Linked DNA regions of Homo sapiens. The protein of the gene in region 2 purifies or fractionates together with the protein of the main gene of each other region. This does not show direct contact. Each region holds a gene or a part of one and is shown on either strand. Other genes may lie near its edges.

The links.
Region 1: the proteins of AQP5 (region 2) and ATP1A2 purify together in Homo sapiens (affinity purification with mass spectrometry; one large-scale study listed by BioGRID and IntAct). This does not show direct contact.

The regions. Positions count from the first base shown.
Region 1 is NC_000001.11:160,129,081-160,132,882, reverse strand, and holds part of ATP1A2 (sodium/potassium-transporting ATPase subunit alpha-2 precursor), read right to left. Parts: coding exon 3,794-3,802; intron 3,618-3,793; coding exon 3,483-3,617; intron 2,782-3,482; coding exon 2,592-2,781; intron 2,462-2,591; coding exon 2,286-2,461; intron 1-2,285. UniProt on the Homo sapiens protein: This is the catalytic component of the active enzyme, which catalyzes the hydrolysis of ATP coupled with the exchange of sodium and potassium ions across the plasma membrane.
Region 2 is NC_000012.12:49,960,194-49,964,757, forward strand, and holds the start of AQP5 (aquaporin-5), read left to right. Parts: upstream 1-1,678; 5' UTR 1,679-1,824; coding exon 1,825-2,187; intron 2,188-2,473; exon of another isoform or gene 2,474-2,731; intron 2,732-3,298; coding exon 3,299-3,463; intron 3,464-3,898; coding exon 3,899-3,982; intron 3,983-4,308; exon of another isoform or gene 4,309-4,432; coding exon of another isoform or gene 4,433-4,489; exon of another isoform or gene 4,490-4,564. UniProt on the Homo sapiens protein: Aquaporins form homotetrameric transmembrane channels, with each monomer independently mediating water transport across the plasma membrane along its osmotic gradient. Plays an important role in fluid secretion in salivary glands.

The DNA.
Region 1 (3,802 bases), on a different chromosome or scaffold from region 2:
TCTCCTCCCTTCACTTGACCTGTCTGCTCTTTCTGGGCAATATAATACAACATACTATAAGCCTTTAGTTTGCACCCTTGTGCTAATGAGATTCAAATCTCCAGTCCTGACCATCTTTCATGAGCTCTAAACCATACTCCAATGTTCACTGGAACATCTGTCTTTCCTGGGGTATCTTATAGACTCTTTAAGCTTAAGGTCAACATTGAACTCCTTTTCTCTACTCCTGCCACCCCACCAAGCCTGCTACTGCTCCCTACCTTAGATGTTGTCCTCTCTATTCATCCTGTCCCCTTCTCTCCTGTATCTTCCTCACCTTCCATATCCAGTTTGGTCACCAAGTTCTCAAAACATTTCTCAGACATGGCTATTCCTCTCCATTCCCTTTGTTTCTGCCCTAGTTCAGGTCATCATTCTTTGCCTGAACTATGGCAATGGCCTCTTAACCTGTCTCTCCCTGACTCCAGTTCTTCCCCAAATCCAGTCCCTCCTCAAACCAGGTAGTCTCCTAAAAGCTCAACCTCCCCCGTGACACTGATGGCTCTCTGTGGCCTGCAGGATAAAGCCCAAGTCTGGCATTTAAGCCAAGTCCTTCCAACTGGCTCTGACCCAGTGTTCCAGTCTCAACCCCCAGTACTCCTTGCCACCTCTCCCCTGCCAACCCCTACACACGCTCCGTACAGTCTAGCCACGCCAGGGTACACACTGTTCCCTGATCTTGACATGCCTTCCTCTCCCTCACTGCTTTGCAGAATACTCTTTGACCTCCAAAGCCCAGCTCAAATATCATTCCTTTTGTCAAACATCGTCCAGTTCTCTGAGGCAGAATTAATGCTTCCCTGAGCTGACTTCCCATAGAGGTCCTCTGCCCAGGCCTCCGTGATGGTTCTGATCACAGAGAGAGGCACCTGGCCAAGCAGCAGGAGCTCAGGCTTTCCGGTCAAGCAGATCATGCTTCATAGTCCCAGTCCATCACTTACTGGTGGTTTTATTTTGGGGAAAAGACTTACCCACTTGCAGTTTCCATTTGTTTTACTTTTTTTTTTTTTTTGAGATGGAGTCTTGCTCTTGTCGCCTAGGCTGGAGTGCAGTGGCCTAATCTCGGCTCACTGCAACCTCTGCCTCCCGGGTTCAAGTGATTCTCCTGCCTCAGCCTCCCAAGGAGCTGGGATTACAGGCACCTGCCACTACACGTGGCTAATTTTTGTATTTTTTTTTCAGTAGAGACGGGGTTTCACCATGTTGGCCAGGCTGGTCTTGGACTCCTTATCTCAGGTGATCCACCAGCCTTGGACCCCCCCAAAGTGCTGGGATTACAGGCATGAGCCACTGTGCCCAGCCTTGTTTTACTTTTAACAGGGATAATGATGCCTGCCTCGGAGACAGAGTGGTTATGGGGTTCAGAAACCACATACACCCACAGAAACAAGTCTCCTGGTATGATAGTTAAGAAATAGCAGACTGCCTTGGTTCAAGTACCTGCTCTATGACTTACACTAGCTGTGTGGCCTTGGCATGTTACTTTGTGCCTCAGTTTCCCTCTTTGTAAAAAAGGAAAAATACTGGTGCTTATTCACAGGGTTGTTGCGTAGATTAAATGAAATCATAGAGGTTTAGTGCTTAGAATAGTGCCTGATTTATATGTGTCCTCCCTGGCACAGCTCATTGTCCCATCTAGATGTGTCATGTGACACAAATTGTTTACTATGTATCAGGCACTGTGCAAGGTGCTAGAGTTTGCACCTTGCACAGTGTCTGAAACATAGTAAACAGTAAATATTTGTTGAATGAAGAACAAACATAGCACAGAGGAGGGAGTGGTCAGTGAGAAGCAATTGTAGTTGAACAAGAGAACCTTGAGTGGGAGGCATTCTGTGGGGTTATGGGCTGAGCCACTGGGAGCATACAAGAGCCTGCTAATCCCATCCTAAGTTGACAGAGAGGGTGGGCAGTAGTTGGGAAGGGTAGGACAACTAGGTCTTCAAGATAGGAGTGCCAGATTATGCTTCAAATCAGAATGGAAGGGTACACATGCAGATGGGACAAAGAGCTGTGCCAGGGAGGGAGAGGAGGGGCATGGGACACTGGCCTCTCTGAGCAAAAGGGATAAGGGTGAGTGCCCCAAGGCAGGGGTGGGCCTTTCCTTGCAGATGGACAGCTTCTTCTCTGAGTCAGTGGGAAGGAGGCCACCGTGGCCTGGGCCTTTCCAGGGCAGCAGCCACTGCAGCTCCTTGAACTCTGGCATGGGGGAGGCTAGAATGGAGGGGAGGATGGGAGGCCAGTACCTTGATGCCTGCGCTTCGGCACTTGCCCACAGCATCTGGCACAGCAGCCCGGGGAGGGTCAATCATAGACATGAGCCCCACAAAGCAAAGCTTCTCCGTGGGAAAGTTCAGCTCATCCGTGTCGAATTTGAAGCCCCGAGGAAACTTTCCAGATGGCAGATTCAGTTGACAGAATCCTAAAGGGGGGCAGAAGGGATCAGTGAGATCCGCAGAGTGGCTTCCTGGACGCCCCCACAGTCCCCCACCCCAGGGATGCCGCAGAGGCTTGGGAATCCCCTTCTGAGCCTCCTGTTTCTGGCCTCTCACCCAGCACACGCTCCCCAAGTCCCCCCAGCTCCATGTAGGCATTTTGAAAGGCATCTTGCATCTCCTTGTCGAGCGGGATCTCCTTGCCCTGCACCAGGATGGTGGAGCACCGGTCCAGAATGCGCTCTGGGGCCCCCTTCATCACCAGCACGTGGCTCTGGGGGCTGTCTTCTCGCTCGTGGATAGACAGCTGGAGAGACAACAGGTAGTTACAGAGAGGGCCATACTTGTCTTGGTAGCGCGGCATAGAGCAGCAGCTGGTAAGGAAACCACCTTAGAAAAGTAGCCCCAACCCATCAAAGATTGTCAACAAAGAGAATCTCCTTGTGCAGGGGGGTGTTTAGACCTCACAGTTCCAACACTTGTAACCTGAGAGCCACCTCCGTAGGACAGTCTTTCATTCAACAAATATTTATTGAGGTCAGGTTAAGACAGGCACTGTGCTAGGGGCTGAACGGCTCCCTCCTCAGCATCCCCACCACCACCTGGCCTCAGGGGGCTTTACCTCTATGGATAATAAGGAATGCTGAGATTGCATTCTTGGCATTTAACAGGTGCCTAAAGGCTAAGGGGCACCATAAAGGAATTACAGAATTATGGTTTCACTGACTGGGGTAGAAGAGTTGGAAGGCTAGGCCAGAGGATGCGGAGCTATGGGAAGAAGAGTTGAGAGAGTGACAGATTGTAGTAAGGGATGGAGTAAGGTTTGGGAGCTGGGGCTAGTTGCAATCAGACATGCAGTCATATGAGCTGTCCTGGGGGACTTAGCAGGGGGAGGGAACATGACCCTCAGACACCCCCACTCCTGCTAGTGATGATTCCCCTTGGCTTTGTCCACCCTCACCCATTTATATCCCTCTCTCTTCCTCTGTCCTGGCAACCCAAGCAGACCTGGTACTTGTTGGTAGAGTTGAAAGGAATCTCTGCCACCTTGGGGTTTCTGTCTCTCATTTTCCTCACTGAGCCACAGGAGAGCTCAATGCACTTGAGCAGAGCTGACTCAGAGGCATCACCAGCTGTGTCCCGCTGCCAGAAGAGACAAGAATTCAGTGTCAGCATGGGAGGGAAGGGAGTGGAGGATCAGGTGAAGGCGGCACTGAAACCCCCAAGGCAGCCACATCATGTGAGAAGGAAAGCTGGGGCCAGCAAGAGGCTTTGGAGACACCCCCAAAACATACCTGGTGTGTGTCCTGACCCCCTACCTTAGACAC
Region 2 (4,564 bases):
TCTGTGCCAGGCACTGTGCTAAGGGCTTCTCTAACACACATGGGGATGGGAGTCTTTAATGCAGCTCCTCTCCCGGGATCCTGGGGGTGGGTCCTCCCCCTCTAAGCCCTAGAGAGCCCTCCAGCCTCGTTCTCCACATGCCCGACCTGGAGTGGGTGGGAAGAGGGAGAGGGTGGTGTGCGAGGAGGCAGCAGGTCACAAAGGGGTTACAAGCTCAGAGGGAAGGGGGATGGGAACTGGAAGAAAGTGTCACCCAGACCAGGGGTAGAAGAACTTGACTTTGGGGAGACTGAGAAAGACCACATGTAAGAGAGAGAGACATGGAAAATGAGGTAGAAACAGACAGAAACAAAGAAAGGCACAAAAATTAAGAGGCAGAGGAAAGGTGAAAATAGCCAGGAGACAGAAACTGCAGGATGAGAGAAATGAATAGAGAGAGACAGAGAGACTAAGACAGCAAAAGGCAGGAAGGAAAAACAGAAAATGAGAAGGTGTGAGAGAGAGAGAGATGGAGAGGTGGAGAACAGAGAGACTGAAATGAGAAAGAGACCTCTCGGAGAGAGACCGAGAGGAAGAGGCTGGCAGAGGGAGAGGGTCAGAGACCAAAGACAGAGACAAAAAGAGAAATAGGGTTTTGCAAAGACTGACTGACAGAAACAGATTTCGAGGGGAGAGAGATCAAGACCAAGTGAGGGTTTGAAGGAGACTTAGGGGAGGTGGAGGAAGAGAAGGAGAGTCTTAGATCCAGGGTGAGGGGCTTCTAGCAGGAAGAGGGAAGACGCCAAGACCGCGCTTGGGAGGTCAGTGGTGCGTCTCTACCCCCCCTGCTCCCCCACTCCAACTCCCAGAGTCTCAAGGCCTCACGTCACACCCCCGTCCCGTCCCGTCGACAAGGGGAACCCCGGCCTGGGAGAGGGCGCCTCCGGGGATCCGTTGCCTAGTCCAGGTACTGCCCAGCTACCGGGCGTCGAGGATTGCGAAGCGTCGGGGCAGGCTGGCACGGTGCCCACTTTTCCCAAAACGCCAGCCTTCCAAGCCCAGAAGCTCGCCCGGCCCAGGCCGGGAGCGGCCCACGTCGGACGGCCGGACCGCCCTGCAGGACCCAGCCCGGCCGCCCGCCCCCGCCGCCGGCGGTGAGGGAGGTGAGCGGCGCCGACCTGCGGGACGAGCATCACTCCGACCCAGCCGGGGGTGAGGCGGGTCAGGATGCTCCGGTCGCAGGAGGAAAAGGAGGAGCTGGACCAAAAGCCCGAAGAGAAGAAAAGGGGAAGGCCGCGCACGGAGCGCGGTAAAGGCCGGCGGAGCTAGACGCCCCGAGGTCGGAGTGAAGCGCCGGGACCGAGCCCCGTCTCCCAGGGAGTCCGGGGCGCACGGCACCGAGGAGAGCGCGGGAGCCAACCTGGGCGCATCATGCGCAGGGCCCGGGACGCTGGGCCGGTCTACACCGCCGCCTGGGTCACGTGGCCCGGACGGGCCGGCGGCTGCCCCGGCCGGGGGGCGGGGGTCGCGCCGGGGTTGCGCTGGACGACGGAGAGCGGCGGGCCCGCAGCGGCCTGGAGCCTCCCAACCCGCGCGCCGCGCTGGCCCCCGAGCGTAGGAGCCGCCCCCTGCCCCCCCGCGCCGGCCCCGCGCCCGGCCGCCCGCCCCCTATATAGCGCGCCCCAGCAGGGCCCGCGCCAGGCCGCCAGCCTCGGAGTGGGCGCGGGACAGTGCGCGGCGCCCCGCAGCCAGGCCCCCGCCCCCGCCGCATCCACCTCCTCCGCCGCCTGCGACCCAACGGGCGCCCCCCGCCGCGGCAGCTGCCGCCGGGCCCCCGCGGCCACCATGAAGAAGGAGGTGTGCTCCGTGGCCTTCCTCAAGGCCGTGTTCGCAGAGTTCTTGGCCACCCTCATCTTCGTCTTCTTTGGCCTGGGCTCGGCCCTCAAGTGGCCGTCGGCGCTGCCTACCATCCTGCAGATCGCGCTGGCGTTTGGCCTGGCCATAGGCACGCTGGCCCAGGCCCTGGGACCCGTGAGCGGCGGCCACATCAACCCCGCCATCACCCTGGCCCTCTTGGTGGGCAACCAGATCTCGCTGCTCCGGGCTTTCTTCTACGTGGCGGCCCAGCTGGTGGGCGCCATTGCCGGGGCTGGCATCCTCTACGGTGTGGCACCGCTCAATGCCCGGGGCAATCTGGCCGTCAACGCGGTGAGTGCCCTGGGGGGGGGGTGGGAGCCTCGACCCTGGGGTGGGCTCAGGACCAGGCCTCTTACCCCACCTGGAAAAAAGGGGTGCCGCAGAGTGGGCCAGCCCACACCCTTCACCAGGAAGGCAAGAGCCTCCCAAGGCCAGGAAGGCAACTCTCCAGGCTGATATGTGCTCCCTTCCTGCCCACCTCCTCTCCCCCTCCCCTCATGCTGGCCCACCCTGGTCTCTCTCCAATGCCTGCTACCCCTCCTCTCCTGCCAGAAACTTCTGCCTCCTCCTGTCTCACCTTTGAGCTCCACCTTCCTCCTGGGCCCCTCACCTCTCCCATCACCTCAGTGGAGCGGTTGAGTAGAACCACCAGAGAAAAGCGGGCTGTCATCACGGCTTTGGGTGACCCTGGCCTGTCTGTGCTTCATTGTTCTCAGCGCCTCCATGGGGATGGTTGTGTCTGCCACAGCAGGTGTCAAGGGGCTCACATTTAGAAACCGTAGATAGGAACCCCCTAATGTGGGGCCAGTGCAGAGCAGTTTCTGTTGAGTATTGGTTCCCTCTTTCCCCAACCTGTGCTCCTCCCCTCAACCCCGCACCCCTGCCTCCCTCCCACCTCCTGCAGCCCCAGAGTCAGCCCCCAACCCCATGCAAACTGGGTTCATTAATCAAACACAGAGGAGGATTTGCTTGGCCATTGTCAAGCTGTGAGTCAGCCGCACTGGAGAGACGGGTTTAAGGCTGGCACTGGCATGGGGCCAGGCACGGGCAGGAGGCCGGGATGGGGTGTGAGGCAGGCAAACCGGGCAGCTGCCCACAGGATGGAGGGTAAATGCCAGCTTATGGGGGCTGGGGGTTGGGCAGAGCCATTGATAGGCCCGTGTCCAGGAAAAGCTACCCTGACGCTCTGCCCTTTGGCCACAGGCCTGAGCTTCAAGCCTGTGCAAACTATGAAATGTACAGTGTCTTTAACAAATGGCTTCGCTGGGGCGATGTCCACAGGACTTGGCTTCCAGGTGCCAAGGTGCTCTAAGTGTCCCTGGAGGCCAAAAGCCCTACTCCCCGAGCCCCTGGCTATACAGCCAGAAGGTGGCCGGGGTCCTAACCCGCTATCCCCTTGCAGCTCAACAACAACACAACGCAGGGCCAGGCCATGGTGGTGGAGCTGATTCTGACCTTCCAGCTGGCACTCTGCATCTTCGCCTCCACTGACTCCCGCCGCACCAGCCCTGTGGGCTCCCCAGCCCTGTCCATTGGCCTGTCTGTCACCCTGGGCCACCTTGTCGGAGTGAGCAGTACCGACATTGGGCTGGGGTGAGGGTGGGGCAGGCACTCAAGGCAAATAATGGAGCCCTGGAGCGGAGCCCACTTCAGATGGATGAGTCCAGCAGAGTTTAAGGCCTGGATTTAGGGCTCCTGGACTCTGGCCCTACTGGGCCCCAGAATTGATCCCCCCAAAACCTCTGGGCTGAGGAAAGATGGGAGTAAGTAGGAGGTGGGATGGGACAGGAATCAAACCCAACCTCAGAGCAGAGAAGAGAGGAGGGCGTAGTTAAGGGTCCATGGTTAACCAAGCAGCTGGGATCCTTGGAGGGAGAGGTTGCCAGCCTGAGTTTGAGACCTGGCTGAGCCCCTGGACTGCAGTGTAACCTTGAGAGAGTCCAGATTCTGTGGGAGTGGACCAGGATGTTGCCTTTCTCTCCACCGCCCTGTCTCTATCCAGATCTACTTCACTGGCTGCTCCATGAACCCAGCCCGCTCTTTTGGCCCTGCGGTGGTCATGAATCGGTTCAGCCCCGCTCACTGGGTGAGTCTGTCCCTTCCCCTGGCTCCCTGGAGATGAGGGCCTGGAGACCCAGCAGTGGCAGCTCAGAGCTCACCAGACCTGGATTCTGTGGGTCTAGAGCTTGGGGGTGGGCCACGGAGTGGTGGCTGACAGAGAAAGGGACACAGTAGGGGATGGGATTCAGCTAGAGGGGCAGAGGTGGCTTTGTATGGCCTGAACCGCTGGGGACAGGGAGTCTGAGTATCTATCCGCTTATGGAAGAGGCTCTACTGAACCTGGAGGTGCAGAGGGGCTCTGTGTCAATTCCCTTGAGGATTTGGTGTCCGTCCCCCTCGGTGTCTGCGTGCTGGTCCTCTCTGATGTTTTATTTATCTGTCCCTGTTGAGGGGGTTGGGAGAGTCTTCCTGTGGGTCTGTCCCTGTGGACAGTCTGTCTGCCCCCCCTTTGGAAGCTCATGGTCACTCTCTCCAGGGTCTGCTTCTATCCCTGCGTGGAGGGGACACGCGCTCTGTTCATCCGTCTCTCTGAGGACCCACGTGTCCCCTCTGAAGGTTTATTTGCTTCTCTTTCCGGTGTGGTTGGAGGGAGCCTGTCCCTCTGGGA